4 linked regions of the Homo sapiens genome follow. The protein of the gene in region 1 purifies or fractionates together with the protein of each later gene. This does not show direct contact. Each region holds a gene or a part of one and is shown on either strand. Other genes may lie near its edges. The genes, in order: GHITM, POMK, PTPN1 and MFN2.

The links.
Region 2: the proteins of GHITM (region 1) and POMK purify together in Homo sapiens (affinity purification with mass spectrometry; 5 studies listed by BioGRID and IntAct, with this or other methods). This does not show direct contact.
Region 3: the proteins of GHITM (region 1) and PTPN1 purify together in Homo sapiens (affinity purification with mass spectrometry; 3 studies listed by BioGRID and IntAct, with this or other methods). This does not show direct contact.
Region 4: the proteins of GHITM (region 1) and MFN2 purify together in Homo sapiens (affinity purification with mass spectrometry; 2 studies listed by BioGRID and IntAct, with this or other methods). This does not show direct contact.

The regions. Positions count from the first base shown.
Region 1 is NC_000010.11:84,142,502-84,150,129, forward strand, and holds part of GHITM (growth hormone-inducible transmembrane protein), read left to right. Parts: intron 1-153; coding exon 154-253; intron 254-1,493; coding exon 1,494-1,605; intron 1,606-2,373; coding exon 2,374-2,515; intron 2,516-6,228; coding exon 6,229-6,337; intron 6,338-7,553; coding exon 7,554-7,628. UniProt on the Homo sapiens protein: Plays an important role in maintenance of mitochondrial morphology and in mediating either calcium or potassium/proton antiport. Mediates proton-dependent calcium efflux from mitochondrion.
Region 2 is NC_000008.11:43,096,260-43,103,887, reverse strand, and holds part of POMK (protein O-mannose kinase), read right to left. Parts: intron 6,365-7,628; 5' UTR 6,273-6,364; intron 1,384-6,272; 5' UTR 1,288-1,383; intron 361-1,287; 5' UTR 340-360; coding exon 58-339; intron 1-57. UniProt on the Homo sapiens protein: Protein O-mannose kinase that specifically mediates phosphorylation at the 6-position of an O-mannose of the trisaccharide (N-acetylgalactosamine (GalNAc)-beta-1,3-N-acetylglucosamine (GlcNAc)-beta-1,4-mannose) to generate phosphorylated O-mannosyl trisaccharide (N-acetylgalactosamine-beta-1,3-N-acetylglucosamine-beta-1,4-(phosphate-6-)mannose).
Region 3 is NC_000020.11:50,568,922-50,576,549, forward strand, and holds part of PTPN1 (tyrosine-protein phosphatase non-receptor type 1), read left to right. Parts: intron 1-5,595; coding exon 5,596-5,733; intron 5,734-7,628. UniProt on the Homo sapiens protein: Tyrosine-protein phosphatase which acts as a regulator of endoplasmic reticulum unfolded protein response. Mediates dephosphorylation of EIF2AK3/PERK; inactivating the protein kinase activity of EIF2AK3/PERK.
Region 4 is NC_000001.11:11,997,444-12,005,071, forward strand, and holds part of MFN2 (mitofusin-2), read left to right. Parts: intron 1-1,326; coding exon 1,327-1,435; intron 1,436-1,544; coding exon 1,545-1,652; intron 1,653-3,957; coding exon 3,958-4,111; intron 4,112-4,325; coding exon 4,326-4,393; intron 4,394-4,538; coding exon 4,539-4,660; intron 4,661-6,548; coding exon 6,549-6,675; intron 6,676-7,065; coding exon 7,066-7,170; intron 7,171-7,381; coding exon 7,382-7,484; intron 7,485-7,628. UniProt on the Homo sapiens protein: Mitochondrial outer membrane GTPase that mediates mitochondrial clustering and fusion. Mitochondria are highly dynamic organelles, and their morphology is determined by the equilibrium between mitochondrial fusion and fission events.

The sequences.
Region 1 (7,628 bases):
TTGGCTAATAAATTTCCATAGTGAAGTTAGGTATATAGAAAGTACCAAGTTTCTTTAACTAGAGTTTTCTAGTGTAAAGGGATCTTGCATTTTATTTTATTAACGTTCTGTTTTCATGTGGGTGGTACGTGTCTTTGTTTGCATGTGTGTCAGGAATATGCCACCAAAACAAGAATTGGGATCCGGCGTGGGAGAACTGGCCAAGAACTCAAAGAGGCAGCATTGGAACCATCGATGGAAAAAATATTTAAAAGTAGGTGGCTATCTTTAGTTTTTAACCTAGAATCTATGGATATGTTTTAAGAGGTCCATGAACAACTTCCTAAAAATATATGTGTATTTGTGCATTTTCTGGGAAGACCACATTATTATTCTGAGATCTGACGACCCAGAAAAGATTGGTACTTTGCACTGGATTCAGTGGTTATCAATCATATTTCTTCCAGTGGAAATTTTACTTTCCTTTTTTTTAAAGAAAAGGATTATTAATATGCCATGGTCCAAAAGGTATACTCTGTTGAGAAAGTTCATTTTAAGTGTGTAGAATCCTCATTCAAGCATATAATATTTGTGTATGTTTCAGATTAAGAATAAATCACCAACACATAGATGTTAATAAAAGCCTAGCTGTCCAAGAAGAATCCTTTAACTCACTGCTCACATAGGGCCTCAGGAGGGCAGTACTTTAATATATTGCCAGTTTGGTTCAGTTTGGATATCAACTTTGCAAGTTCAGAAACTAGATTGTTAATCATCCTAAAGCTATTCAAAGAATACCACTGCTCCTTAATAATCTTGCAAAATGTCTTTACAGTGGGAGAGAGCCCTAATCAGTATCCTTCAGGTCATTTCTTTCTGATTTGACCCTAGAGACCAAATCATGCAAATTATGTAGTGACAGCCTAGTAATATTCTTAGTAAACGAATTAGACTAAAAGAATAAGATGCCCTTTATGAATACCTCTATTGAGTTAGAGTTGATTAGTTGCCTCTCAGTACCCTAAAACGGGAGCCTCCTCTCACTTGATTCTGCTGCATAAACACTGATTATATTTTCTCTTTTTTCTTGATTTCCACGTAAAGCATCATTTGTGTTAATACCATGCAGTATGGTATGACTGTTAACATTTCCTTCTCATTTTTTACTTTCCATGAATGTCATGTGAATATACTTCAACCTCTTATTAGTAAAATAATAGGTATCACAGAAGTAGCTCCACGTCTACAGGTATACTGCTCCCTCAAATATTGTTGGAGGGAGGTTGAAGATTCACCAAGCCTGATCCTTTCTTTTTTGTACTGATTTTTACACCTTTGTTTCAGGAGTGTTTTTTTCTACTGGTTACCTAACATTGAGGCAATTTCTGTACCCCATATGCACTGATTATGGCTTCTATTAAATATGGTACATGATTTGATTCCCTTGATAAATATTTTAAAGGCTTTGTCCAGATGTGCCAGTACTAACCTGCATTTCCTTCTGTGTTCTGCAGTTGATCAGATGGGAAGATGGTTTGTTGCTGGAGGGGCTGCTGTTGGTCTTGGAGCATTGTGCTACTATGGCTTGGGACTGTCTAATGAGATTGGAGCTATTGAAAAGGCTGTGTAAGTAAATTGTTTTAAGTAAACTGTTCCTAAACAACTCCAGCCTTAAAACAAAAATTCAAATTTTCTTCTCATTCCTATCTTTAGTCACTTTGGAATGTTTTGTGTCTAGTCTTTGTGTATACACACAAATAGAGAATCTCTTTTTGCTTCTTTGACATTTATTTATTCAAATCTAAATAAAAATCTTTTAGCAAGGTTATATGTGTTTAAGCAAAGAGAAAATATGAAATATGTTTTTTGTTTGTTTGTTTGTTTGTTTTTTTGGAGAGAGAGTCTTGCTCTATCTCCCAGGCTGGGGTGCAGTGGCGCGATCTTGGCTCACTGCAACCTCCGCCTCCTGGGTTCAGGCAATTCTCCTGCCTCAGGCTCCTGTAGGTGGGATTACAGGCACATGCCACCATGCCCGGCTATTTTTTGTATTTTTAGTAGAGACGGGGTTTCACCATTTTGGCCAGGCTGGTCTCGATCTCCTGACCTCAGGTGATCCACCCACCTCAGCCTCCCAAAGTGCTGGGATTACAGGCATGAGCCACCGCACCCAGCCAAAAATATGTTGTTTTTTATATGTGCTTGTATGTTTTATCTCATTTAGTCCTTACAGTAACTCCCAAGTATGCATAATTATCATAATTATTTCCATGATAAATGAAGTGAATAAGATTTAAAGTGTAAAATGATTTATCCCGAGGTCGCCCAGCTAGTGTGTGACTCAACCAGAAATCAAATCTGTAATTTCATAGATTAATCATGTCATGTTTCTTACAGAATTTGGCCTCAGTATGTCAAGGATAGAATTCATTCCACCTATATGTACTTAGCAGGGAGTATTGGTTTAACAGCTTTGTCTGCCATAGCAATCAGCAGAACGCCTGTTCTCATGAACTTCATGATGAGAGGCTCTTGGGTGGTAAGTCAGCTGTTTTTGTTTTCCTTTTTCATCTAAAGATCAAAAGATTAGATAAAATATATTGGAGGGAAGGGTTATTAAATGGAAAGAATACTGTATTGAACAAGTTTTTGTTCAAATAATGTATGAATTACAGGTTGAGCATCCCTAATTTAAAATCCAGAAATGCTCCAAAATCCAAAACATTTGTAGTGTCAACATGATGCTCAAAGAAAATTGTAGCATTTCACATGTTGGGTTTTTGAATTAGGGATCCTGAACCCTAACAACAATGAAGTGTAATGATAAATAGTCCGAAATCTGAAGTCTGAAACACTTCTGGTCCCAGACATTTCTGATGAGAGTTACTCAACCTGTATTAGTGCAGCTGAGATAAAAGTAGGAAGTTCATTCTAGGTAGGTCAGCTATTATTCTTTATTAAACATGTATTCGAATAATACCAGAGGAGTTAGAAATCAAACTTACAGAGACAACATTTTTGTCTAGCAGCAGATATCAGACAGCCTCTAATTTGTAGCAGTTTACTAAAAAAATAAAGCAAATGCAAAATCATCTTAGAAGTCAGAGGGAAATGCCTATGCAGTTAAGAGCAGAATAGTGCTGCTACTATTATTCCTAAGATTCTTGACCTTATAGAAGATTTTATATTTAATCGGTTTCTCTGGAGCCCTTGTTATTTTGCTAGATAAGAGAATTTGAATATGTGTCCCCTATTCTCCTGCTATTTGGTAGAAGAGATGAACTGGAATAAGTGGCACAGATACGCAATAAGAAAGTGCAAAGTCAGTTGAGAGTTTCTGTCTTGGACTGTTAGGCAAGTTCCGTGAAGGAGACATTTATTTCATCAGGGTTGTTGAAGGCTAACATGTCTCATTTATTTTAGAAGTAGACAAGAGGGCCAGGTGCAGTGGCTCACACCTGTAATCTCAGCGTTTTAGGAGGCTGAGGCAGGAAGATTGCTTGAGCCCAGGAATTTGAGACCAACCTGAGCAACATAGTGAGACACTGTCTGTAATTTTTAAAGAAATAGAAAATTTTAAAAATTAAAAAAAAATTTTTTTAAGTAGACAAGGGCGGTCCAATTTTACCAAACAGTTTAAGGGAAGAGGAGGTAGGAAAACCTAATTTCAGAGGTGACTTACAATCCCATTAGAGGGAAATTCAAGTGTTTGAGGTCTGGAGGGTAAAGAAGACGTGGTTAGAAAGGATACAGTTGTCAAGCTGAGGAGAGAACCTAAGCAGTCGGAGGCCATTGGAGATACTGGAACAACAAAAGCGTGATTTATATTTGAGTTTTTAGAACCAATGTGGAAGAGACATGGAGCAGGTGTACCAGCTGTGCCTTTGTAAGATCTGAAATGAGGGATGATAAGAACCTGAACTAGAGCAGAGTGTGATACTGGAGGGGAAGGAGAGTTCATGTAACACTGATTCCCCACATAGGGACGAAAACCATATTATTTTCACTGTGTTGTACTTTACTAAAGGATAACCATTTACAGTAGCAGCCATTTGGATATTTATATATTCTTAGGATCATGCTTTTTCACATAGACGTCATGAATCTCCCAGCCCAGAGGTTCACAAAGGCACAGAATGTTTCACTGGGGATGTCAGTTTTAATCAGAAGCAAATAATTTAAAACAATACTTTTGTAATAAACATGACAATATTTACCTAAAATTTTAGGCCCTAAAATGAGGCTTCAAAGAAGTTTTGTGTTTGGGCCATATCCTCAGTCCCTTCTGGGCAAAAGATTACCCTCTTCCACTGTTAGTAATACAGAAAATAGGAAAGCCAAAGACAAGTGTTACAGAGATGAAGATGTAACCTTTTGGGTGTGACAGACATATATATACAAACACACACATAGACACACAGATAATGTCAAAGTTTGTCCCAAGTGCATCTGAGGAGAGGTATCTGATCTTGCTCTTGGGCAGCCAGGGTACCTACTAGAAAAAGCTTTTGAGATGAGACAGTACCAGAGTAAGTCGACCAGATATGGAAGGAGATATTCTTAGGCATGATGGATTGAATTAAGGAGGCCTGAAATTTTGGGGCATGTTGGCAGCTGTGCCAGTTCCGTATGGTTGGAATGCAGAGTTTGGAGTGAGACTGGATCATAGAAGATCTTAAAAAAATTTAATTGCTGCTGTCCACAGAGGATGTGTGAAATAGTTTGTAGTAATTATTTCTCGTTAGAAAATGGTGGAGTGGAGCTCGATATGCTTTTCTTTTCTTTTTAATGTTTTTTAAAAATAGAGACTAGATCTCTATGTTTGCCTAGGCTTGGCTTAAATTCCCAGGCTCAAGTGGTCCTTTCACCTCAGCCACCCAAGTAACTGACATTACAGGTCCATACCACTACACCCAGCTCAGTATGCTTTTTCATGTTAAGGTTTTCCCATTCTTGGCAAAACCAGCTATTTGGTTTACCTGTACTTTATATTAGAGGTTGAATATTTTGATGTTCATAGGTGAGACAGATAATACAGATGAGTGAGGAGGCCTAGTGTGTCACACAGGAGATTGTTGACATCTAGAGGTTACTGACATCTAGAGTTAACCTTTTCAACTAAAACCATTCACCATGTTCTTTTTTTTTGTTTGTTTTTTTAAACATAGTTTGCCAAACAAAACATCTGTGGCCTGATTCCAAGGGCTACAAGTTTGCAATCTCTGATTTAAATTTCTTGGAGATTAGCACCATCTTATTTCCATTACATGTTAATACATTCTTCTTGTCATACACAAGCAATATTTAATTATAACACTGGAAATCTAAGATAGGCAAAGAAAAGGAATGAGGACCAAATTAGCCATAAACCTGGAAGGGTAGAAGTGTAGAATCTTATTTCTCATTTTTCTTTTCCATGTGCTGTGATAATCTACTTTCTATTTTTCAAGTCTTCATTTAGCAAATATGGAGTTCAAAGTGATGTGCTATATATATTTTTTTTAAAAATTACTAATTTGTAAGCATCACTGATTTTAAAGAAAATGCTATTTGTGCTATACAAAAATATATTTTTTAATTAAGAGTTAATTATCTTGGGATCCCTAAAGGGTTTTTGTTTCACCTCTGTCCAACAAGAGTAAAATTGTTAAAAGATGTGTTGCCAGTTCAAGCTTAAGACATGCATTTGAAGCTGTCTGCAAAACCTCATATATGGCAGTAGGGGGCACTCGTGCTAACTTAGCCAAAACTCTGAAATAAACCCAGAGCTTTTAATGTGCCAGAAAAATTAAAGTTTTTATTTTTTATTTTTTATTTTTTATTTTTTTATTTTGAGATGGAGTCTCGCTCTGTCACCCAGGCTAGAGTGCAGTGGCACGATCTTGCCTCATTGCAACCTCCACCTCCCGGGTTCAAGTGATTTTCCCACCTCACTCAGCCTCCCAAGTAGCTGGGACTACAGGCGCGCACCACTGCGCCTGGCTAATTTTTGTATTTGTAGTAGAGACAGGGTTTCACCAGTTAGCCAGGCTGGTCTCAAACTTCTGACCTCAGGTGATCCACCTGCCCCAGCCTCCCAAAGTGCTGGGATTGCAGGCGTGAGCCACCACGCCTGGCCTTAAGCTTTGATTTATTATCTTTAATATTTTTACAACTAGTTTATTAGAAGTAACTAATTGTACTTCAAACCTGTGGGTTTCTGCTTTGTTTTCATATAAAGATCAGTTTTTCTTAATAGTACTTGTCTTTCAGACAATTGGTGTGACCTTTGCAGCCATGGTTGGAGCTGGAATGCTGGTACGATCAATACCATATGACCAGAGCCCAGGCCCAAAGCATCTTGCTTGGTTGCTACATTCTGGTATGTTCTGTTTTAAATTGTTACGAGACAACCTTGACTACCACCTTTTTTGGGTGGCTCTTCACAGTTGTAAATGACCTACATGGAATTTAAGCCTCATGTTTAGAAAACACCATTTTCTTCAGTCATTACTGGCTGCATTATTGCCAGACCTTTGCTTTGAAAAGTTGATTTTGCTAAGACCATGGACATCTTCAATACGAAACTTGTATCTTCTGACAGTCTAGTATATGCAGAGATTTACTTTTGTGTATTTTGTTCGATACCAGGAGGGTTTTATATCTAGTACGCATCATTTGAGAGTTGTTTTTGTCTGGTATGTTTAGAAAAATTAAAAACTGAGGATAGAGAAAGTTGTGCTAAAAATGTTGCTGCGAAATAACAAAAAACTGAGAGGAGTCCTAATAGAAGTGTTCTGTGTAGAAATTTCACCCACTGTTTTGCCTAGAGCAAAAAGTATTTTTAAATTATTCATCATCATGAGATAGTATACCTTATTAACCATATAACTTGATCTAGAAATGTTATTCTTTAAGCTAGTATTGAAAATTCAGTATAAAGATAGCTTTGTGCCTAGTCTATGAGGTAAACGACATTTAAGAAAAAGGTAACTTATTCTTCTTAGCACTGAAATAATGCATTATCTAAGTTTTTTTTCAATTAAGGAGTTCCATTTACCTTTGTTGAATTACTGGTAAATTTTTTACGAAATTGTTTATAAATATCTGACAACTAAAATTACTTATTTATAAGCTGTTAGCAGTCCTTATTACATAAAGAAACAGCAGTGTCTGTCTTAGAAGTTCCCACATTTTAAGTTTATCATCATATGCTTTCCCTTTTGACAGCAGTAGGTTTGACCTTGAGTTATTTGTTTTAAGCTTGTTTATCTCAATTATTATATGAATGTTGTAGAAACTAGTGGTAAGCTCAGATTCAAATAGCTACATGGAATTTGATGGTTACTAAATAAGTAGATTAGTGTTTGCTTGTGAGTGTGATTGATTAGGAATAGTGTTAATGTTGTGATATAGAATTTGAGTAGTCACCAATTTGGGCTGTAGAATTTGGTGGGGGTAGTATTATCTAAAGGCAGAACTTTTTGAATCATAGTGCTTAAACAGTAAGGTATAATATAAAGTGGCATGTTAGAAGTGATATTTTCCTTTTGCTTGTTATTTAGTAAATACTTAATGAGCACTTCCTCTTTCTCCAGGTGTGATGGGTGCAGTGGTGGCTCCTCTGACAATATTAGGGGGTCCTCTTCTCATCAGAGCTGCATGGTACACAG
Region 2 (7,628 bases), on another chromosome or scaffold:
ACACTGTGTTAAGCGAAATAACAGGATGACAGCAATCGCAAATGAACCCGGACTCACTCTCTTTACAGCTCCTTCCCCAACACGCTTCAGCTGTCTCACTTCTGTTCTCAGCTCCTCGCAGGACAGCCAAGGTGAGCAGTTTTTCATCTGTCCTATCCTGAAGTGACCATAGGGACAGTGTGTGGGGTCCACAGTGGATTGTCGAGGAGCGATGAAGAAGTGGTCGAGGCAGAGGTAGAGCAGAGTATTCATCAGGGCCATGATCAGCAGCAGCCCAACAGCTGGCGGCACCTCTCGGGGGGCGAGGCCTCTCCTGCTGTTCTGGGGCTGCTTTTCCATGTTGACGGCCTCTGCAATTTCCTAAAATACACAATGAAACAAGAAGTCATGACAGTCAGCTTTCACTTCCTTTCATTTCCAAAAATGTGTTCTGATGCCTCTTCTACTCAAGGGTCCTGTAAGCTGCAGCGTTACCGTGGGGATTAAAGCAGGTATCGAACACCAGGCTTATCCCAAATGCCCAATGTTAGCTGTTTCCATAATCATTACTTTTTATTACAAACTAAAATGCGGGTTCCTCTAGATTAGGTTAGGTGGGAGGTGTTTGTGTCTGACTCTGTCCGACTCACAGTAGCATGCATTAAATAGATGCTCATGAATATTCAGTAAAATGAAAGCAAAATGTATTAGTCAACTGGTGGGACAGGGACAGAGGGTGGACAAAGGACAGCAGAAGGAGGCTGCTTAGGGTAGCAGGTGGAGGCTGGGAAGCTGAGGGCCTCTGTCGAACTCAGCTAAGCAGCTGTCCTGTTCCCTGGGAGGTACTCAGAATCCCCTCAACAGTTTTAAGAAATAAAAGCTACTCTTCAGCAGTTATGAAAGGTAGATTTGGGGTGAAAGAGACTGAGGCTGGGAGACCAGTTATTAAGAAGCCCTGGTTATGACCACGGACAGGAGCTGACAAGTACATGAGCTAGAATAACAGCGATGAGATTGGAGAGATGACCACTCAGATGTCACACCAGCGATAAGTAACCACTGATAATGTGTGGGCTCTACCGCTGGAGCCGTGCAAGGCCATGGTGGAGGGGCCTGGCTGCGGAGAAGCCTGAAGTAGGACCGTGGATGGCAGAGGTGATTTACAGAAGCAGAATGGAGCAGAATGGAAGTATATGGAGACTTTAACAGTGGATGTGGCCATGCCAGTGGGAGCCAGCTAAACAGCACTGGAATGCTGGGGCACTGGGACAGAACTGGGTCAGAGACAGCTGTGACATGCAGGGTTACCTCCCAAGCGCATCTCCTTCTCCAGCTCAGGTCTCCATCCAGGTACCTGGTCAGTCCATACTCTAGTTGGCGCCCAGGGACTGGTCGGGAAACACCCTGCCACAAAGTACCAAACAGGAAGTGTGTAAACAGAAACTGCAGCTATGTACCCAGACAAATCGCCATAGTCCAAACGGTCCAACTTTCCCAGGGCCCTCCTCCTGCCTCAAGTCCAGGTTTCCTCAGGTTCTCAAGCCCCAGGACAGAGCAGGGCCGTGGGGAAGCCCATCAGAGTCTCTCTGTCCCAGTCTGCTCTCTTCTTCTCCATCACTGACTTCCAGCTGCTCATTCCCGCAACATGTCCTGAGCAGCTTCTATGTGCCCAGCCCTGCAGTGGGTGCTGGAGACATTCACACACAGTGAATTACACCAGCATGGTTCCTATCCTGCTGGAGCTTAGGGGAAAAGTCTAGTGGGGAAGACAGACAATAAACAAGTAAACAAATAGGTCTATCATCATCCTGTGATGGGGGTTCAAAGATAGAGAGTAACTGTGTAGGAACTCCCTGGAGGAAGCATCCCAGGAGACCTCTCTAAGGAGGTGACCTTCACACTGTGACTAGAGGCCTGAGAGGAGCCAGCCATGAAAAATCCAGGACAGGAAGCTTGTTCCTACCTCCTCCTTGAGAAAACAAAATCCACTCCCATATACAGAGCTGGGACAAGACGTCAATGAAACCACAAAGTTAACAGGAAACGGCATTTCTCCTTAGAACACACTGCAGCCATAAAGTGTCAAAAACCCCCTTTGGATGAAGACTCCTTTTTTACTACCTAGAAATTCTGTTCTCTACAATCACAGACTACCAGAAATTTTGCAGTTTGAAGTCTTATCAGTTGGGATAAAACATCCCATGCTTTCCTGGAGGATCAAAGTCACTCTGACACACAGAAGCAACCTCAGTTCCCAAACAGGGCAGACCTTCAGATAAGGAGTTTCTGGAGATAATCCTGCACATCTATGTTAACCTGGTAGTCTCCAAGGAAAGAGGACCACTTTGCAGTCCAGACTAGATCTTGGCCCCTTTACACTCAGTTCTACATGGCTTTGAGCCCATCAAAACACTACTTCATTTAAATTTGCCTAAACTTTACTCATCTCCAAAATTCTATGATTTTCTTCCTTTTTTTTTTTTTTTTTTTTGACATAGGGTCTGACTCTGTCACTCGGGCTGGAGTGCAGTGGTGCAATCATAGCTCAATGCAGCCTCAAACTCAAGCAATCCTGTCACCTCTGCCTCCTTAGTAGCTGGGACTACAGGTGCGCATCACCACATCCAGCTAATTTTTGTATTTTTTTTTGTAGAGACTGGGTCTCACGATGTTGCTCAGGCTGGCCTTGAACTCCTGGCCTCAAGCAATCCTCCTGCGTCAGCCTCCCAAATTGCTGGGATTACAGGCATGAGCCACTGCACCTGGCCTTTTAAATTTATTTTTATCCCCTCCACGGCTCTACTCATCCCCTGCATCAGTATTCCCTGGAACCTCAACACATTCCAGTACCCCACAGATGCAAGCACACAAGCTCATACTGTTCTGGCGCTCTTGAGCGTACTCCAGACCTCACACTGCTGACTCTCCCAGCAATGGCACACACTTCAGTGCCTCTATGGCTCTAAACCCACAGTAGCAGCCTCTAGAACGCCTTAAACCATCCGGCTGCCCCTTCCTAGAGTGTCCTCGTGCTCAGGGACACACGTGCACCTCACACCAACTTGACCCTTAGCGCACCGGGCCTCTGACGGTACCAAGACCCTTCCCGCACCACCACCACCCCCTACCTCACAGAGATCCACAATCCTCATCCCCGCTAGCACAGGCTCAGGTCTCCCACCGTCCTCCCTCCATCAGATCCCTCCATGAGGTCCCTCCAGCTCTGTTCCATTAGCATGCACTGGGCTCCAACTACCCAGACCTTTATTAGCGCATGCACACACCCACCACGGCACAACCCCCACAAGCGCACACCCAGCACTTGAGTCCTTCAACCACCTCCCCTCCATAAGCACCCCATTCTCTCCTACCCTGCAGGCCCCCACAGACACACACACAGCACTAACACCATACACACCCCCATCACCACACACGAGGCCTCAGAGGCCTATTAGCACACACCCTGGTGCCTCTACCACACTATCCCCCATTAGCACACACACTGGGCCTCTCTCCAGCCATAACCCCTATTAGCTTGCTTTGGAACTTCCTCAACACCCTACCCCTGTGATACACCCACGGGTCCCTCACCCGCTCTGCTGCCCACTTCCCTAAGCACACACTGGGCCTTGAGCCTCACCTGCCATAAGGCTCATCACCACATGCTCTGAGCCCTGCTCAGCCCAGGCCCCCATTGGCAAAGCTCCAGTCTCTCCCGGCTCCACCACCCATTCCCATATCCTCTGTTCCTCTGACCCCCTGCTCCCTATTTGCACTCATGGCACTTCCATCCCCAGCTCCCTGCCCCGGGCCAGGTCAGAGAGGCCCCGAAGGACTCCTGCCCTGTGCCCTCTCAGATGACTCTCTGTCCCTCTGATGAAGATATGCAAGTCCCGCCAGTATGCAGCCTCGCTTATTGCAGTGAGTCAATAAAAGTGATAGGTGTGTCCCGAGTGGCCTTAGGCTAGCTGGAAGCTCACACTCTCCTTCTCCAAACATGTACCACCTGTTCCCCCACCTTCACTCTCAGCTGATCATCTAACGAGATCATCCTATTTTACTAGAAAAACAGAAGCAATCAGAGAGCATTTCCACCAGTTCCCAAGCCCCACCCCAGGTTCCTGCACTCTCCTATTACTACAAACAGTGTGTTACCATGAAACTGGCCCCGAGCCCAGCTCAGGCAAACCCCACGCCCAGCTCTGTCCTCTCATTCTCTCCAACTCACTGCCACTGCACCCAAACTGACCTTATCACAGTCAGCACAGGTGGCCTCCACATCACTAAACACAACAGTCAAAGCACAGCCCCAGTCTTCCTTGATCTATCAATAGCATCTACCGTGATTGATAACTCCCTCCTTAAACGCCTTATATAATTGGTTTCCAGGAAACTACATTCTGGCAGCTCCTCATCTCTGAGTCCACGTAGTGGGGTCCCCCAGAGTTCAGAGCTCAGGCCTCTGCCACACTCCCTGGGAGAGCTCACCCAGACTCAGGACTTTTCATCGCTGCCTGCTGACAACTTCCAAAGGTAAAACTCCATTCCCAGCCTCTCCTCAGAACCCAAGGCTTGCTTCCTTGACATCTCCATGTGGATGTCTGGTGAACAACTCAAAAGATTCAAAAAAAACAACTCAATTTAAAAATGTGCAAAGGGTCAGGCATTGGTGGCTCACACTTGTAATCCCGGCACTTTGGGAGGCCAAGGTGGGAGGATCGCTTGAGCCTAGGAGTTCCAGACCAGCCAGGGTAACATAGTAAGACCTCCTGTCTACAAAAACTAAATTTAAAAATTAGCCAGGCATGTTGGCCTGTGCCTATAGGCCCAGCTACTCAGGAGGCTGAGGTGGGAGGATCATTTGAGTCCAGGAGACCAAGGCTGCAGTGAGCTGTGATCGTGCCACAACACTCCAGCCTGAGTGACAGTGAGACCCTGTCTCAAAAAAATAAACAAATAAAATTTTTAAAATGGGCAAAGGACTTGAACAGACATTTCTCCAAAGTAGATACACAGATGGCCAACAGGCACATACATGAAAGATGCTCAGCTTCACCAGTCATCAAGGCAAACGCAGATCAGAAGTGTGACAAGATGGCATTTTACACCCATGAGGATGGCTATAATACAAAAATCAGTAACAACATAGGGGAATGTGGAAAAACTGAAATCCTCAAACATCACTGGTGAGAAAGTAAAATGCAGCCACTGTGGAAAGCAGTCTGGCCGCTCCTCAAAAGGTTAAGCACAGTCACCACACGACCCAGCAACTCCACTGCCCAGTATGTACCTATGAAAACACACACACTCACACACACACTCATACATGAATGTTCACGGAAGCATTATCCACAACTGCCAAACAGTGGAAACAAGCCAAGTGTCCATTGGCAGATGAATGGATAGACAAAATGTGGTACATCCATAAATGGAATATTATTCAGCCATAAAAAATAAAGCACTAATTCATGCTGCAACATGGGTGAACCCTGGAAACATCATGCTCAGTGAAATAAGCCTGACAAAAAGGCCACATGCTGTAAGATTCCATTTACATGAAATGTCCAGAAACAGCAAATTCAGACACAGAACATAGATTTGTGGCTCCCAGAGGCTGGGGAGGCAGGGGGTGGAATAGCTGCTGACAGGGATGGGGTCTCTTTTTGGCTAAAATGTTCCTGAATTAGACAGTGATGATGATTGTACAACCTTGTAAATATGCTAAATATCACTGAATTGTACACTTTAAAATGTCAAATGTTATGGTTTGTGAATTATATCTTCCTTGAAGTCTCCCCCTAACATTTAAAAAGATAAAAGCATTCCCAGCTCTCAGGCTACGCAAAAACAAGCAGAAGCTGTGGTTGGCCAAGCCCTGCCTTAGGTGATGGCATTCCTCCAGGTCTGCCAAAGACCCAGGTAACCTCACCCACACCTGGGACACTAGCAGCCATCTGAACTCTGCTGCTTTCTAAGTCTGCACTGCAGCCCAGGTCTCTCCTATGCTTTGCTCACTGGCCTATCAAGGTATGGGATGTCCACTGCAGAACTCCCCAGTCCCCACAGGCCCCTCCTCCAGGGTTCCCTCTGTCATGGGCTCATGACCCAACCACCCACTCAAGTTACAGACCAGGTGTGTGTGACTTGATTCCTCCCTCCCCTAAACTCTAAACCAACCGATTACCACATGCAGTCAATGCTCCCACCAAAACCTCCCTCACAACTGCTTGCATATCTCCTTCCTTGCTGCCCTTCCCCTCCACCCCGCTGCGTGAGCCAGCAGCACCTCTCACCTGGGTTTCCACAATAGATTCCCAAGCAGACGCCCAGTTTTTCCTCTCTTGCAGTCCATTCTCAGGATTACACAGCAAACAGGATCCTTTTTCTTTAAGTGTTTCACACACAGAGAAAAAAAAAATCATAAGCATTCATCCAGCTTTGTCAAGTCACACTGCATCATTTTTTCAGATCTTTTTTTAAAGAAATTAAATATTACAAATAGAGTTGAAGACCCTCTGGACTCCTCCCCATCCAATTCTACTCCCCCTCAAGAAGTGATCACTATCTTCAAGTTGGTGGACATCAGAGATTCTCAAACTGTGCTCCCCAGACCTGTGGCGTCATAGCCCAGGAACCTGGGAGAAATGCAAATTCTTGGGTCCACACTCCAAACCTACTGAATCAGAAATGAACATCTGTGTTTTAATAAATCCTCTAGGTGATTTGGATGCATGCTAAAGTCTGAAAACCACTGGTGTATATAATTCCTATACATGCTGTCTATCTATCTAATCGATCTTATCTATTTACCTACCTACTTATCTATCTACTTAAGACATGGAGTCTCACTATGTTGCCCAGGCTAGACTCAAGTGATCCTCCTGCCTCCACCTCCCAAGCAGCTGGGACTGACTACAGGGATGGGTTACCAAACTCCGCTTCTCATACATGCTTATTTTCACAAGTATGTGCCCATAAATCATACATATGTTTTCAAGCTTTATACAAACAGTGATGGGCTGGTATTATCCTCCTGCAACCAGTTTTTTTTAAAAGCTCAACATTACATTTCTGAGATTTATCCATGCAGATGCACAAAACTCAGTTCACTATTTTCAACTGGTTTGACTTTTCCACAATTAGTGAGACAAGCTGTGTATACATCTCCCCAGGCATACATGGAAGTTTCTCTGATACATGCAGGGAGAGCTTTCTTTTTTTTCTTTTTTCTTTTTTTGAGAAGGAGTCTCACTCTGTCACCAGGCTGGAGTGCTATAGCACAATCTCAGCTCACTGCAACCTCTGACTCCCTTGTTAAAGGGATTCTCCTGCCTCAGCCTCCTGAGTAGCTGGGATTACAGAGCTGGGATTACAGGCACGTGCCACCATGCCCAGCTAATTTTAGTATTTTAATAGAGACGGAGTTTCACTATGTTGGCCAGATGGTCTCAATCTCCTGACCTCGTGATCCGCCCACCTTGGCTTCCCAAAGTGCTGGGATTACAGGCATGAGCCACCATGTCCGGCCCATGCAGGGAGAGCTTTCTAAAGCACGGATCTGATCCCACCTTGCTTAACATTCAACAGCCCCCCACTCGGCCCACAGGATCAAGTCCAAACTCTTATGTGGCCTCCTGAAATCTAGCCCC
Region 3 (7,628 bases), on another chromosome or scaffold:
CTCCATTCAGTACCTAGACTCTTGCCCTGCCACACCTCTTCGGAGTGAGCATTGACTTCAGGATGTGTGTCATTCTAAGTTCCTGCAACTTTTCAAACACCCCTCGGGCTAGCGTGTGGCTGCACGGTGTCCATTTGTGCAGGCCACCACTCCTCTTGCATCTGGGTCTAGCCACCTCTCCTTCTTGACTTACCATAGTTCATTTTGTACCATGCTTTCAGAATGAGCTTTCTCAAATCCAAGTCTCACCACGGTTCTTCCCAGCTGAAAACCCTTGTGCGGTTCCCTTTGCCTCACAGGATAATACATGGTGTGGCTTACGGAACCCTGCAGGTCTGGCCCTAGGCCCCTGGACACAGACCTCTCACCACTCTTGGAACTTTAGCCAGGACAAAGTTTTCTGTTTTTAGTTTCTTACCATGTTCTCTGGGCCGAGGAGTCCCAGTGCCCACGTTCATCCCACTTGCAGGCACCCCTGGACGGCTGCCCCCAGCTCCCCAACTGCCTGCATTCTCCCCTGCCCTCCTCACTCTGTTGGAATAGCTGAGAATAGCCGATTTCTGGGCAGCCGGCCTCCTGTGTAGACTGTCCTGTGTAGACTGTCCTGTGTAGATTGTCTGTGTAGACTGTCCTGTGTAGATTGTCTGTGTAGACTGTCCTGTGTAGACTGTCCATGTAAACTGTCCTGTGTAGATTGTCTGTGTAGACTGTCCTGTGTAGACTGTCCTGTGTAGATTGTCTGTGTAGACTGTCTCTGTAGACCGTCGTGTATAGACTGTCCTGTGTAGACTGTCTCTGTAGACCGTCGTGTATAGACTGTCCTGTGTAGACTGTCTCTGTAGACCGTCCTGTGTAGATTGTCTGTGTAGACCATCCTGTGTAGACCATCCCATTTAGACCATCTGCCTGTGCAGGCGCAGGCCAGTGTTCAGCAGGGCCACAGGCTCCTCGGCCTCCCTGCCCTCGCTGCTCCCCAACACTGCCAACCCTGCTGCGGGGTCCAGGAGGAGATGGGCTGAGGATCGTGGAGACCAGCAGGAGCGTGTGGCCCAGGAGCAGGGAACTGGGTGTCCTTGGGCCTTGCCAGGTCCAGGCTCAGCTAGGACACGGCTCTCACAGCTGTCCTGGTTGCCTCCGGCCACAGAAGAAGGTGAGGGCTCCAGAGAGGCCACCTTTCCAAAAAAAGCACAGTCATGGCCCTAGAATGTAAAAAATCCAAGTGTTAAGAAGGAACACATCAAAGGAAACTTCAGCAGTGAAAACTTGAAGCATTAACCACGAAGCCTCTGCCTCCACCACACACAAAGAAACGGCTTTAGTTACTCGCAGAAAGTCTTCCTCTTAGGACAGCGCGTGTTTAAAATCATAGGGGTTTGGTTTGTTTTGTTTTGGGGTTGGGGTTTTTTGGGGGTTTTTTACCCTTGCCTACTTTTTAAAAAATGAAAGTGTTTATTTGCCCAACAATAACAGACAGGGAGCTTGCCTAAGTGTTCTGTTGATGATATAATGTATCTTGTCTTAGAAAAAAACTTTTTCAGTGAAAGGTGGTTTTTAAATTTTTTCTTCCCTCCTTAGTAGCTTGATTAGTAAAATGTGAAGTTACAAATGTGAAGCAAACCCCCACCCTTCACCACTAGTCAGCAATTTTGAGTAAAGAAACAAAGCATCAGGTGCTCACAGCACACACTGTCTTAGAGGGAAGGGGAAGCCTGGTGGCCTGTGGAAGCCTTCAGCATAGCTCCATCTGCAGGCTTCTGACCCTCAGCACTACTGACACTTGGGCTGGATCATTGTCTGCTAGGGATCCGGGCAGGGAGTGGCTGTGCTGGGCGCTGTAGGAAGTTTAGCAGCATCTCTGGCCTCTATCCACCAGATGCCAGTAGCACCCCCTCCCCAGATGTGGCAGTCAGATGTGTTTCTGTCTAGACTCCAGACTTTGTCCAACGTCCCCTGGTAGGCCAAATTGCCCCCGGTTGAGAACCACCGCTCTAGATGGTATTGAGGGTTGGGAATTTTAAATCAAGACATTTATTCAGAAATTACCAGATATAGTAGCATTTGCTTCTTATTTATTTCTTTGTTGCTAAGTGTTTGGCAAAACCTCTTTGCTGTGAGCACAAGGTTTGCTTTAGCAATTGTTGTCACATTACAGCAAGGAGTGGTGTCCAGCGCTGTAGTTATGTATTTGAGCAGTGTCCAGTGCTGTAGTTATGTGTTCCAGCCTCACCAGGCCCTGTGCTTCATTGTCTCCCACTCAAGACTGACCACAAATGGCCCACAGATCCACTGTGACAACCTTTCCCTTTGGGTTACTGTGGTGGCATCGAGAACATGGCTGGTTGGCTTTGCTGTAGTTTACTGTGATAACTGTGCCAGCAGTCCCTGCTTTCCTTTGTTAAGTATCCCATTCCACTGGAGGATTACTTGGGCGTGCAGATTGGCATGAAAAGCAATGTATGGTTTGAGATTGTTAAAGTTTCTTTGGGATCAACATTTTCAATTCTGTATCAGCATTATCCCTCCCAGAGGGCTGGCTGGGAGAAATCATGAGAAGTTACAGTATCTTATTTGCTCAGCTAATCTAATTATAAATGATCCACACAGCTTGTGGTAAAACCAGCTTTTGGGGAGTTTTCATTTAATGCATACTTGTCTTCTGATTTCCTTCCTTCACCAAATAGTGTAGGATGCTCCCTCTTATTTTTGGCAAACATGCCTGTTATCTTTTGGGACCCTGGGCTTCCTGGAAACCAGTTATGCAGAAGATGATTGTGTGTGTTAGACTGGGGTCATCCAGATGGCTAGAGTTCTCACTGGTTCTGTTTAAGGATTGACTTTAGACACCTCAGTGTAGGCTGCACCATGGCGTAAGGGTTGGGATTGTTGTTTAGAAGGGGGAAGTAAGCAAGGTGAGTTTAATTGGCCATTGCAGAATCTCACCCGTATCTCCCTCCTGAAATCCTCACTAAAGCTGCCGTTTGCTTTCAGGTGCTTTCATGCACAAGACACTGCATTTTGTATCACAGGGTCCATATAATTCATTTTTCTCTCGTACTTAGTTCTCTGTGTTAAGAATTACTTACTTAGTTCTCTGTGTTAATAATTTTTGGCGAAACCAAATTACCCGTCACAGGGTTACTGTAGATGTCTTTCATAGGTTTTCCAAACACCACTTGCCCACTTGTTTGGGAAGGCCCCAAGGACTGTTTAACATCTGCCTTCATGGTGGAAACAGCAACTATGAGAGATGCTAGCATGTTGGCACTGCCATGTTCCTCTGGTACCAGCCCAAGATAGGACTCAATTTGAGGCCTGGTGAAGTACTGTGTTCTAATAAAAATCCATCTACTTTTCATGGCCGTATATATCAATGTAATAGGGTAACTGGAAATGTGATCTTGTGCCTTTTAAAAATTTTGTGTGTTTAAAACAAAAATTTCTATTGGAAATGACAGAGCATAGCTTGTTGCTGTAGACACCTGAGAGTCCTTAAAAATAAATATTGGGTTATTGACACTTAGTTGCATGACAGAATTCCTCACTTGTACAGTTCCAAAGTCTTAGTCTTTACCCAGATTACAGAGGGTTATTAAGCATTAGGTTTGGTTTTGAAAGTGAGTGCTTGCTGTCTGGAGGTGAGCTTTAAGACTCGTCTGCCCTGCTTATGAGATGAGGAAGGGTGGCCTCTTCCTCCTGCATTTCTGTTCTTCGCTTCCTTCTCTGTCTGCTCACTCTGTGGAATGCCCACCCCAGCACGGGTGGGGTGGAACCTGTCAGATCAGTCTCTTGTTTCTGGGGTCTTGAGGCATTATAAGATCTAGTTGTTAGAAGTGTGGGATTAATTCATCTTTTCACATTCTTCTAAGTTCCTGCTTTTAGCTGCCACACCCACTTTGGCTAAGTGGGGGTCTTGCCATGTAATTAGCGCCTCCATGCCAAGTGGCAGAATTGCTTCAATGGTGACAGATTGTCCCCATTCAAGAGTTCACTTTTGGCAACTCATCATTGATCCAGGAAGGTGACATGGATGAAACTGGCTAAGACTTCAGACAGGCTTGTGTCCAGACTCTTGAGAAAGCTCTGTTGGCTTCTGGTCTGGCACTGTGAAGTTTGCTGTGATGCTGGCACCACAACCTGGTGTTTCCTAATTTGTTTCTCCCACATTTTGCTTTGGTTTTGTCTTTTGGGCAGCTTCCAGCTCCAGTAGAGCAGGACCAATAGGCATTTGTGGTTCTATATTCACCCTCCTCACGTGCTTCCTGGCTCCTCATTGCCCCCAGATGATGCCACAGGTCCCTGGGCCTGCTGCCAGTCGTCTGTGATCTGGGCCTCTGCTGGCCCCTTCTCCAGCTGCTCTTTTCAGCCTCTTATTTGCAGTCACTGCCTAGGAAATCCTAGTCATCCTTCAAAACCTGCCTCTTGCACAGAGCTTTCTCTGATCTCTCTTTTCTGTAACCTTGGCTGACCTGAAACATTTCCCTCTTCTGAATTCCTGCTGCATGTCCGTAGCATTTCCCCCTCAGCCCTCCCCCATAGTCCACCTTGTCACTGCTGGGCACAGCAGTGTCTTCTGACAGACAGCTGGCCCTGAAGTGGTTCCCTTCACCCACACCATCCTTTGCCCCAGAGGAGGTATTGAGTGGGTCAGTGCACGTGAACTGCCAGTGTCATTTGCCAAAGAGCTGTTGACACACGCTGACATTTCTTTTGCTGAAAATCATAAGGGCTTTGAGCTTCCCTCTGTCCAGGCACATGGTCAGGCTGACCCGGTAGCTCTGCCCCTGCTGACCTGCCATTTTTGTCCACAACAGTTATCCATGAGCAGAAACATTTGTGTAACTGAGGCAGAAACTTAGTTCAAGTAAAATGTCACTAAATTCGAGTCAGTTTTTGTCTTAGACCCTAAATGAAACCAAATTTTCATAAATTTTCTTGTTTTAAAGAAAAATTTAATGAGCTACATTTAAACTGAGAACATCAGATAGTGTCTGAGATTATCAAAATAGAACATCAAAAGTATTTTTCTGAATGAACTGAACCAAACCAGAATGAAAGGGCAAGCCCTGGGGAGCCTGTCTCCAAGCCTTCTCTGAAAGGGAGTCTGTATTTGGTGATAACTGCTCAGCCTCTCCAAAGGGCCTCACCTGCTGTCTCTCCCAGTTTTATTTTTAATTGCCTGTGAGTTTTCTGTGCAGGGTAAGGCACCTACATTCTATGCCAGCAGCCTGATCAGGTCCTGGGTAATGTTTGAAATGGCTACACAGAGGAGTTTCAAAGCCTTTTGTTCAATCTGGCTTCACCTCGTAGACGGTGAGAAAGCGTCAGAGCCCTGCAGGATCCCGTTGCCACGTTTGACCGGGGAGCCGATGGGTTTGGAAGTCTGAGCCCTGTCTGCACAACCTGCCCCGGTCAGCAGCTTCGTGCCCCCACCCCCATCTCCCCATGAGGCAGGCATCTGTGCTGACCATGGCTTCCATGTTCAGAAACCCCCAGGCCTTTGAGTTATCATGAAGCTTGTGGGATGTGCTCCAAGCCTCCTGCCATAGAAAAACTGCCATATTGCTCACAATAATTCACTATTATTTGTTTCCCCAGTTAAAATGCGCACAATACTGGCCACAAAAAGAAGAAAAAGAGATGATCTTTGAAGACACAAATTTGAAATTAACATTGATCTCTGAAGATATCAAGTCATATTATACAGTGCGACAGCTAGAATTGGAAAACCTTACAGTGAGTATAGCACACACTTCAGCACTTCAGGCGGCTACTGGTTCACATGCCTCTTCCTTTATCCCTTGGGTGATATTACCTAATGTCAGTGTTCCTGGCTTTTGTATACCCCGAGCAAGATGTGGTTTGGGCACTGTGGTGAGCGGAGCTTACTTGTGTACCTACCAAGTGCCCAGGGAGGGTGGAGGCCACAGTGCTCTCTCTGACCTTTAACAACAGTTAACACCAGTTCTTAGGGAAAGGAGAGTTTCTTACCCAAAAGACTGGTTCCTGCTTGTGCAGCTGCAGAGGGACTGGAGCGGCAGCCTGCAAGTCCCAGTGAAGCATGCTGCCTTCTTTGTGGTCCTCAGTCTTCGAGTCTGAAGAGAGGGAAGAAGGGGTATAGGGGCTCACTCCAGTTTCATAGCTAGTGAAAGTTTTCTGGGCCAGGTCTTGGGTTTTTTTGTTGTGGGAAGAGTTTATAACACCAGCTACTTGCTTGGTAAAAGTTGGTCTTGGAACATGGCAAGGCATTGTGGCAAGCAGCACTGCCGCTGAACGCGCTGCTCCTGGGGCTTTGGAATAATTCCCCTGGATCCGTAACTTGGGGGTGTTCATGTCATTCTGGGGAACAGTGGAGGGAGTGCGCGGCAGCACCTGGGGGCACCAGTGAAGAGTGGCCAGCCACCAACCTCTAGAACCTAACTGGGGTCGAATCCTGGCCCCACCTTACTAGCTCATCACAGTGTCTCCGTTTCCTCTTCTGTCAAACTCAGGTTTTGCGAGGGTTCTGGGAGGTCCTATACGGGAAGGGTTAGCAGTTACCATGGGTGTGTAGCACGGGCTTTATCTGAAGGGAAGGTGGAGCCGTAGGGAGACCATGTGGAGTGGGGCTCCAGGGCTGTGTGGGTGGGGAGGGATCTGCTTCTGGGTTACCCCATGCCTCCCCTTCTCAAGTACTACTTTTTAATCATCATGGCTCCTGCCATTCATTTCATAGTTGATGTAAGCCAGGTGCGGTGGCTCACGTCTTTAATCCCAGCACTTGGGGAGGCTGAGGCCAGGAGGATCACTCGAGGCCAGGAGTTCAAGACCAGCTTGGGCAACATAGTGAGACCCCCGTCTCTACAAAAAAACAAAAACAGTTAGTCAGACATCGTGGTGCTCCCCTATAGTCCAGCTACTCAGGAGGCTGAGGCAGGAGGATTGCTTGTGCCCGGGAGTTCAAGGCTGCAGTGAGCTATGCTTGCACCACTGCACTCTAGCCTGGGTGACAGAGCAAGACCCTGTCTCAAAAATAAATAAATAAAAAAAATAGTAGAAGTAAGATCTAGAATGTAGCACAGGTTACCAGGACGTAGGCAAGGGGTTCGGGCTGCCTGGCTCTTGAGGATGGTAGCAGTGCAGCTGATGTGAGTGCTTTCTGCCCTCTGGTGGTGACCGCGCCGGAGTCACCAGCCCTGCCATAGCCCTGATGGGGCAGAGGGTTCTGAGTACGGTGGATGGAGGTGCTTTCTGGAAGATTCTCAGGAGTAACATGGGCAGTGTGTTGGAATGTGCTAGAGGATTTATGCAGTAGCCTTTTAAAAGAATGCTTTTTAGCATTTGCAAGCCTGACATTAAGAGTGACTTCTGGGAAACTATTTGCTTGTTGAGGGAAACTGAATTTCAACAGAGCAGAAGAGCTGTGCGCTTTTTGCTTGGCAGAGTGAATACAGCCAGCTCAGAGGTTTTGATGTTAGGATCTGTTTGCTCCAACAGACTTTGTTTTTAAAAGGCTTTTCTCAGCCATAGCTGTCTGTTCTAGCACAAGGCTGGAATGAGTTCCTTGTGAAAGAGGTGAGCAGGTGTGAGGGAGGGTGTCAGTGGGCGGTAACCCACACCTTCAAGGATTAAAGGAAAACTTGCATTTGGCA
Region 4 (7,628 bases), on another chromosome or scaffold:
GGAGGTCCAAACTGGAAGGCACCAGGTTTCCATTTCTGGATAATCTAGGCCAGGGTCCCTGGGCCCCATCCTTGCTCTGCTTAAGTATTACTACCTTTCAGATGGGCTCAACCAAATCCTCTGGCCTCTTGGCTTTCCTCTGGAGTCTGGTTACTATACCTATTTATCAGTACCCTGCAGATGTCCCAGGGATGGTCTGTAAAAGATAGGAGGGATGCTCAAAAGTTGGTGGGGGAGGTTCTCAATCTCAGCCCAGTGCCAGCATGTGTACTGGGGGTGGGGAGTTGTGGCGGAGTCAGAGGTGTATTTTATTTCCCTTGAAGAAACACTTTGCCTTGGCTTGGTGGACTGGTTATAACTATACCAACATGTACAGTATTGTAGTGTTTATCTGGACTCACATCAAGTCACAACTTCACCTTAATTGTATATCATCTTTTTTTTTTTTTTTTTTTTTTGAGACAGAGTCTTGCTCTGTCACCCAGGCTGGAGTGCAGTGGTGCAGTCTCGGCTCACTGCAACCTCCGCCTCCCGGGTTCAAGTGATTCTCCTGCCTCAGCCTCTGGAGTAGCTGGGATTACAGGTGCCCGCCACCATGCCTGGCTAAATTTTGTATTTTTAGTAGAGACGGGGTTTCACCATGTTGGCCAGGCTGGTCTTGAACTGCTGACCTCATGATCCGCCCACCTTAGCCTCCCAAAGTGCTGGGATTACGGGCATGAGCCACTGTGCCCCGCCTGGTATATCATCTTTAAAGTAGAATTACAAGTAATTCTGTTTTTATAAAAGCAATAGATATATGTGTTTAAAAACACTCATTTCTGCCAGGCACGGTGGCTCATGCCTGTAATCCTAGCACTTTGGGAAGCTGAGGCGGGCAGATCAGGAGGTCAAGAGATCGAGACCAGCCTGACCAACATGGTGAAACCCTGTCTCTACTAAAAATACAAAAAAATTAGCTGGGCATGGTGGTGCGTGCCTGTAGTGCCAGCTACTTGGGAGGCTGAGGCAGGAGGATCGCTTGAACCTGGGAGGCGGAGGTTGCAGTGAGCCGAGATCGTGCCATTGCACTCCAGCCCGGGCGACAGAGCAAGACTCTATATCCAAAAACAAAACAAAACAAAACAAAACACTCATTTCCAGGCAATCTGGAAGGATAGGAAATGGGAAGTAAAATCCGTTAATGAGGGCCAGGCCTGATTTCTCTCCCGTCCCTGGCTTTCTCCTCCATGACCTGCCTGCCTCACAAGTCCCAGGTCTGTTCTCAGCAGGAAGAATAGGGCTCCTGCTCTGCCTGATGATTTGGTTTACCCCTGTCACCTTTAGCCCTGGTATTGATGTCACCACAGAGCTGGACAGCTGGATTGACAAGTTTTGTCTGGATGCTGATGTGTTTGTGCTGGTGGCCAACTCAGAGTCCACCCTGATGCAGACGGTAACTCCTCCTCTGCCTTCTCCCAAGCTCCCAGCACCCCCTGGGCAGGCAGCTGATGGGGCCTTGGCTGTCAAGCTCCTGCTCCACCGAGGTCTTACCCTTTATCTAGGAAAAGCACTTCTTCCACAAGGTGAGTGAGCGTCTCTCCCGGCCAAACATCTTCATCCTGAACAACCGCTGGGATGCATCTGCCTCAGAGCCCGAGTACATGGAGGAGGTTCGTGCTTCTGTTTGGCAGTTTGGGGAATGCAACCCCGAGGGAGCACTGCCTGCCACTGGGGCCACTTCCTGCACCCCTGGATCTAGTGACTTCCCTGAATTAATTTTATTGCCAAAGAATTCTCCAAATACTCTTCTGTGGTATCTTCTGGTGGTCTTTCCCCTCTCCCATCCACTTTGCTGGATGCACCCCCTCTTCAAGCCACTCTCCCCTAGGCCTAAAAAGGATCCCTGCTGCATTAGTGCATCTTCAGTGCCGGTGCTCAGTTTGGTTTCTGAGGAATTAATACAGAACAGGCTCAGCTCTAGGGAGGCCTCTGGGAAAGAGGCTGGAAAGAGGAATGGAGAATAACTGGTTCTTACTGGTGACTTACAACTCTTAGCTATTTACTTATTTATTTAGAGACTGGGTTATGAGGCTGGCTAATTTTTGTATTTTTGGTAGAGACGGGGTTTTGTCATGTTGCCCACGCTGGTTTTGAACTCCTGGGCTCAGGTGATCCACCTGCCTCAGCCTCCCAAAGTGCTGGGATTACAGGCATGAGCCACCACGCCTGGCCTCACAACTCTTTAAATATGTGAAATGAAAGACAAAAGGGTAACAAACGGCATGGTGGTGCACACCTATAGGCTGAGAGAGGATCCCTTGAGAGTAGGAATTTGAAACCACCTTGGGCGACGTAGCAAAACGCCATCTCCAAAAAAATAAAGGGTAGGCCGGGCGCGGTGGCTCACGCCTGTAATCCCAGCACTTTGGGAGGCCGATGTGGGCGGATCACGAGGTCAGGAGATCGAGACCATCCTGGCTAACGTGGTGAAACCCCGTGTCTACTAAAAATACAAAAAATTAGCCGGGTGTGATGGTGGCAGGCGCCTGTAGTCCCAGCTACGCGGGAGGCTAAGGCAGGAGAACGGCGTGAACCCGGGAGGTGGAGCTTGCAGTGAGCTGAGATTGTGCCACTGTACTCCAGCCTGGGCAAGAGAGTGAGATTCCGTCTCACAAAAAATAATTAAACAAATAAAGGGTAATAAGATTGATAATATGGCAATATGGGATGATAAAACATGCAGTTGCAGTCAGTAGGCCAGAGTCCAAATTATTTATTTTTTTCGAGATGGAGTTTTGCTCTTGTCACCCAGGCTGGAGTGCAGTGGCACAATCTCGGCTCACTGCAACCTCCACCTCCAGGGTTCAAGCAATTCTGCCTCAGCCTCCCGAGTAGCTGGGATTACAGGCACCCGCCACCACACCTGGCTAATTTTTGTATTTTTAATAGAGATGGGGTTTCACCATGTTGGCCAGGCTGGTCTTGAACTCCTGACCTTAAGTGATCCGCCCGCCTCGGCCTCCCAAAGTGCTGGGATTACGGGCGTGAGCCACTGTGCCCGCTTGTGACTGACACTAGGCAGTGTGACTTTGTTAGCTTCCTTGACCCTTCTGGTAATCCAATTTCCTGGCCAGTGTGATGGTGTGATAAATAGACTTGTTGAGAGGATGAAATCTGTCAAAAACACCTGACACGTGGTAGGTGTCTACAAGAAGCTATTGTCACATTTTATCGGTAGAACCCCAGGATGTCAGAGCCAGGAGGGATGTTCTAGTGATGCCCACTCCTTTTATAAACAATGCCCCAGGAGGACACAGCTTGTCAGAGTATAGGTCCCAGATTTAGGTTTCTTGACCTCAGGGTTCCTTTCCTGCCAGGGCACCAAAATGAGGCACTATATAGGCTTAACAAGAGGCAGTCTAGGGCACGTTTAAGCATTTCTGCTTGTATATGCATAAAATATCTTTGGCACGCTCACTGCCAAGTAACCCCCACACGTTGGTCTGGGAAACTTGGTGGTGAGAGAGCAGAATAGTGGGGGACATTACACTGTGTATGTGTTTGTGCCTTTGGCTGTTGAGCCATGTGAATATATTGCCTATTCTTTTTTTTCCCTCACTCTGTCGCCCAGGCTGGAGTGCAGTGGTGCTATCTTGGCTCACTGCAACCTCCGCCTCCAGGTTCAAGTGATTCTCCTGCCTCAGCCTCCTGAGTAGCTGGGATTACAGGCGCCTGCCACCATGCCTGGCTAATTTTTTTGTATTTTTAGTAGAGACAGGGTTTCACCATGGTGGCCAGGCTGGTCTTGAACTCCCGACCTCAAGTGATCCACCTGCCTTGGCTTCCCAAAGTGCTGGGATTACAGGCGTCAGCCACCATGCCCAGCCTCTTATGACCTATTCTTTTAATAAAAGAGGCAGGTGGGGGCTGTGGGGCCACCTACACTCACTCTGGACACATTTGTTTGGGCTCCAGGTGCGGCGGCAGCACATGGAGCGTTGTACCAGCTTCCTGGTGGATGAGCTGGGCGTGGTGGATCGATCCCAGGCCGGGGACCGCATCTTCTTTGTGTCTGCTAAGGAGGTGCTCAACGCCAGGATTCAGAAAGCCCAGGGCATGCCTGAAGGAGGTAATGATGAGAACAGATGTCCTCCTTTTCTCTGATGTTTGAGACATTTTGTCTCGTGCTGAGGAGTCTGTCAGTAGAAAATCCTTCTGAGAAGGGGATGCTGAGAAGAGCAGAGAGGCTCTTGCTCTTTAGCCAGTGGCTTGGTTTCTGGGGATTTCATCGTTTTCCTCTGCTGCCAAGTTGTTTCTGGACTAATGCAGTACAATCCTCCTAGGGGGCGCTCTCGCAGAAGGCTTTCAAGTGAGGATGTTTGAGTTTCAGAATTTTGAGAGGAGATTTGAGGTGAGTCCTCTGATTCTGGTATCTGGCGATTCTGTGCCTCCCCAGCTCCCATTGGCTGTGTCCCTGGCAGTGAAAACCAGAGTCTGGCCCTTGGTTGTAGGCCCCTGGTGGCCCCCACCTCCCTCCGTGCCTCTGTGTGTTCCAGGAGTGCATCTCCCAGTCTGCAGTGAAGACCAAGTTTGAGCAGCACACGGTCCGGGCCAAGCAGATTGCAGAGGCGGTTCGACTCATCATGGACTCCCTGCACATGGCGGCTCGGGAGCAGCAGTAAGAGTCCAAGACTGCAGATAGGTGGAGAGAGCTGCCGAGACAAGGGTGCTCCACCCCTGCCTTGGGCAGTTAGGACACGCCTTGATGGCAGGGCTGAGTCTCTGGGCTCCCATCCAGAGCCCTTTCCCTGGCCACCAGACCATGTTAGAACCACATAGACAGCCTGGTGAGGAGGGCGGCTGGGTGCTTCATCACCCCACCTGGTCTGTGCAGCACGATTCCCTGTGTTGGAGGTCTTGGCCCATGCCCTGCTGAGCTCTGCAGCCATTCTCAGAGCCTGAACACATTTTTCAAAACAACATTCCAGCCAGGAGCAGTGACTCACACCTGTGATCTCAACACTTTGGGAGACCAAGGCAGGAGGACTGCTTGAGGCCAGGAGTCCAGCCCAGATAACATAGTGAGATCCCATCTCTACAAGAATTTTAAAAATCAGCTGGGTGTGGTGGCACACACCTGTAGTTCCAGCTACTTGGGAGGCTGAGGCAGGAGGATCACTGGAGCCCAGGAGTTCAGGGTTCCAGTGAGCTGTGATCGCACCACTGCACTCCAGCCTGGGCAACAGAGTGAGACCCTGTCACTAAAGAATAATATGAAAACACCTTGCTTCTATCACACAGAATTGACTTTCTCAGTTGTTTATGTTAAGTTAAAATTTTAAAAAGTTCAGTTCCCTTTTGATTCTTTTGCACTTGTCCCAGTGTCACTCTGCCCTGAGGCACCATAATCATGAATTTACATTGTTCTATCACCCAAACAGTACTTTTTACATAAATGCTGAGGAATATGTCAGGTTTTTACATGCTTCAGATGTACAGATGTGGCATCACACTGTCTGTCACTGTACCTGGCTTTGCTTTCTCAACATCGTTTTTCCCTCTATCCTTGTTAGTATGTGTAGTTTGTTTATGAATCGGAACTGCTGTAGTATATTCCATTGTGAATATGCCTCATTTTCCTATGGATGGAATTTTAGATTTTTTTTTTGCTATTGGAAACCCTACTGCAGTGGACATTTGTTCATGTGTCCCCTTGTGCACCTTTTTAAGAGTCTTCCTGGGGTGAGTTCCTAGGGGTGTGGCAATTCTGTTTTAGGGTACACGCGTTTCCAGTTTTAGTCAGTTTTCTTGATGCTCTTCAGAACAGCCGTACCCATTCATTGCATGACCAGTACTGTCCATAGGCCTTCCATTTCATCAGCCCTCACCAGAACTTCAGACCTGGTCATTTTTGCCAGGCCTTGGTAGAAAATAGTGCCTTTAAAAATTTCATTTACAACTGGGCATGGTGGCTCACGCCTGTAATCCCAACACTTTGGGAGGCCAAGGCGGATGGATCACCTGAGGTCAGGAGTTCAAGACCAGCCTGACCAACACGGAGAAACCCTGTCTCTGCTAAAAATACAAAATTAGCTGGGTGTGGTGGCGCATGCCTGTAATCCCAGCTACTCGGGAGGCTGAAGCAGGAGAATCGCTTGAACCCAGGAAGTGGAGGTTGCAGTGAGTGGAGATCGTGCCATTGCACTCCAGCCTGGGCAACAAGAGTGAAACTCCATCTCAAAAAAAAAAAAAAAATCATTTCTGTGATTACTAGTGAGGTTGAGCTTTTTTCCCTATATTAATTGGCAGAATTTGTTTAAACCCCCTTAAAGCGCCCTCCCTGTTTTGTGCCCACCACCTGACCCACATCGAAGACTGAAGAGTGCATGGTTGGCTGCAGGGTCCTCTTCTTACCTGGGAAGGGGAAGGCCATGCCCCTGGGTGCGTGTGTGCAGCCCTGCCAGGCAAGATAGCGGGCAGGGCGGCGTGGGATTTCTGGCATCCCCTCTTGCTCCTCTGCTTAGTCAGACAGGAACATGGATTTCTCACCAGTACTCTGCTTTCAGGGTTTACTGCGAGGAAATGCGTGAAGAGCGGCAAGACCGACTGAAATTTATTGACAAACAGCTGGAGCTCTTGGCTCAAGACTATAAGCTGCGAATTAAGCAGATTACGGAGGAAGTGGAGAGGCAGGTGAGAAATGAGGAGGAGGCATTCTGGGAAGATTTGGACTCCGAGTAGAGTCCAGAAGAAAGCAGACCTCCTCCTCTTAGGGACTTCTCAGCCTTTCAGAAGAAAGTTGTGGCCCTGTTTCAAGAATACAGAGCTGCCGTTTGGGTTCCATTGTCGGGTTGTGTGATGCTGGGCATGTTCCCTTTCCTCTGGACCTCCACAGATCATGTGGGCGTTTGATCAGCCAGTTTCCCAGACCCTCTCACTTCAGAGGCTTTAATTCCATAGAGGAGCTGAGGAGGCTGCTGGTTTGAGAGGAAGGATGTGCCATCTGCTAGGATCTCTCCTGGTGCTGCAGGAGTGAACTTTGGTCTTCCTTGATACTTAACAGTGTGCTTCCTTTTGCTGTAGGTGTCGACTGCAATGGCCGAGGAGATCAGGCGCCTCTCTGTACTGGTGGACGATTACCAGATGGACTTCCACCCTTCTCCAGTAGTCCTCAAGGTTTATAAGAATGTGAGTCATGGAGCAACAGGTCCTCTTGGCAGGAGGCCCCCAAAAGTGATTCAACCCCTGTTGGTCTGGGTCAGGGCCCCCCAGCAGTGACAGTAGAAGCCACAGAGACAAGGCCCAGGCTTCCGTCAGCCTTCTGGGGTCACCTGGTGGATGTGGCCTGAAGGGAATTTTGATGGACATGCTTCTCTTAACTTCCCTCTTCTGGTGGCAGGAGCTGCACCGCCACATAGAGGAAGGACTGGGTCGAAACATGTCTGACCGCTGCTCCACGGCCATCACCAACTCCCTGCAGACCATGCAGCAGGACATGATAGGTTAGTGCCCATGGGGAACTGGGCAGCTGTGGCCCTGGGCTGCCCAAAGATCAGATGCGGAGGCCAAGCTAAAGAAATCAGGACTTTCCTTATCTGTCACTTTTCATGATGATTCAACTCGATACCTTCAGGTTCTGGGTACAT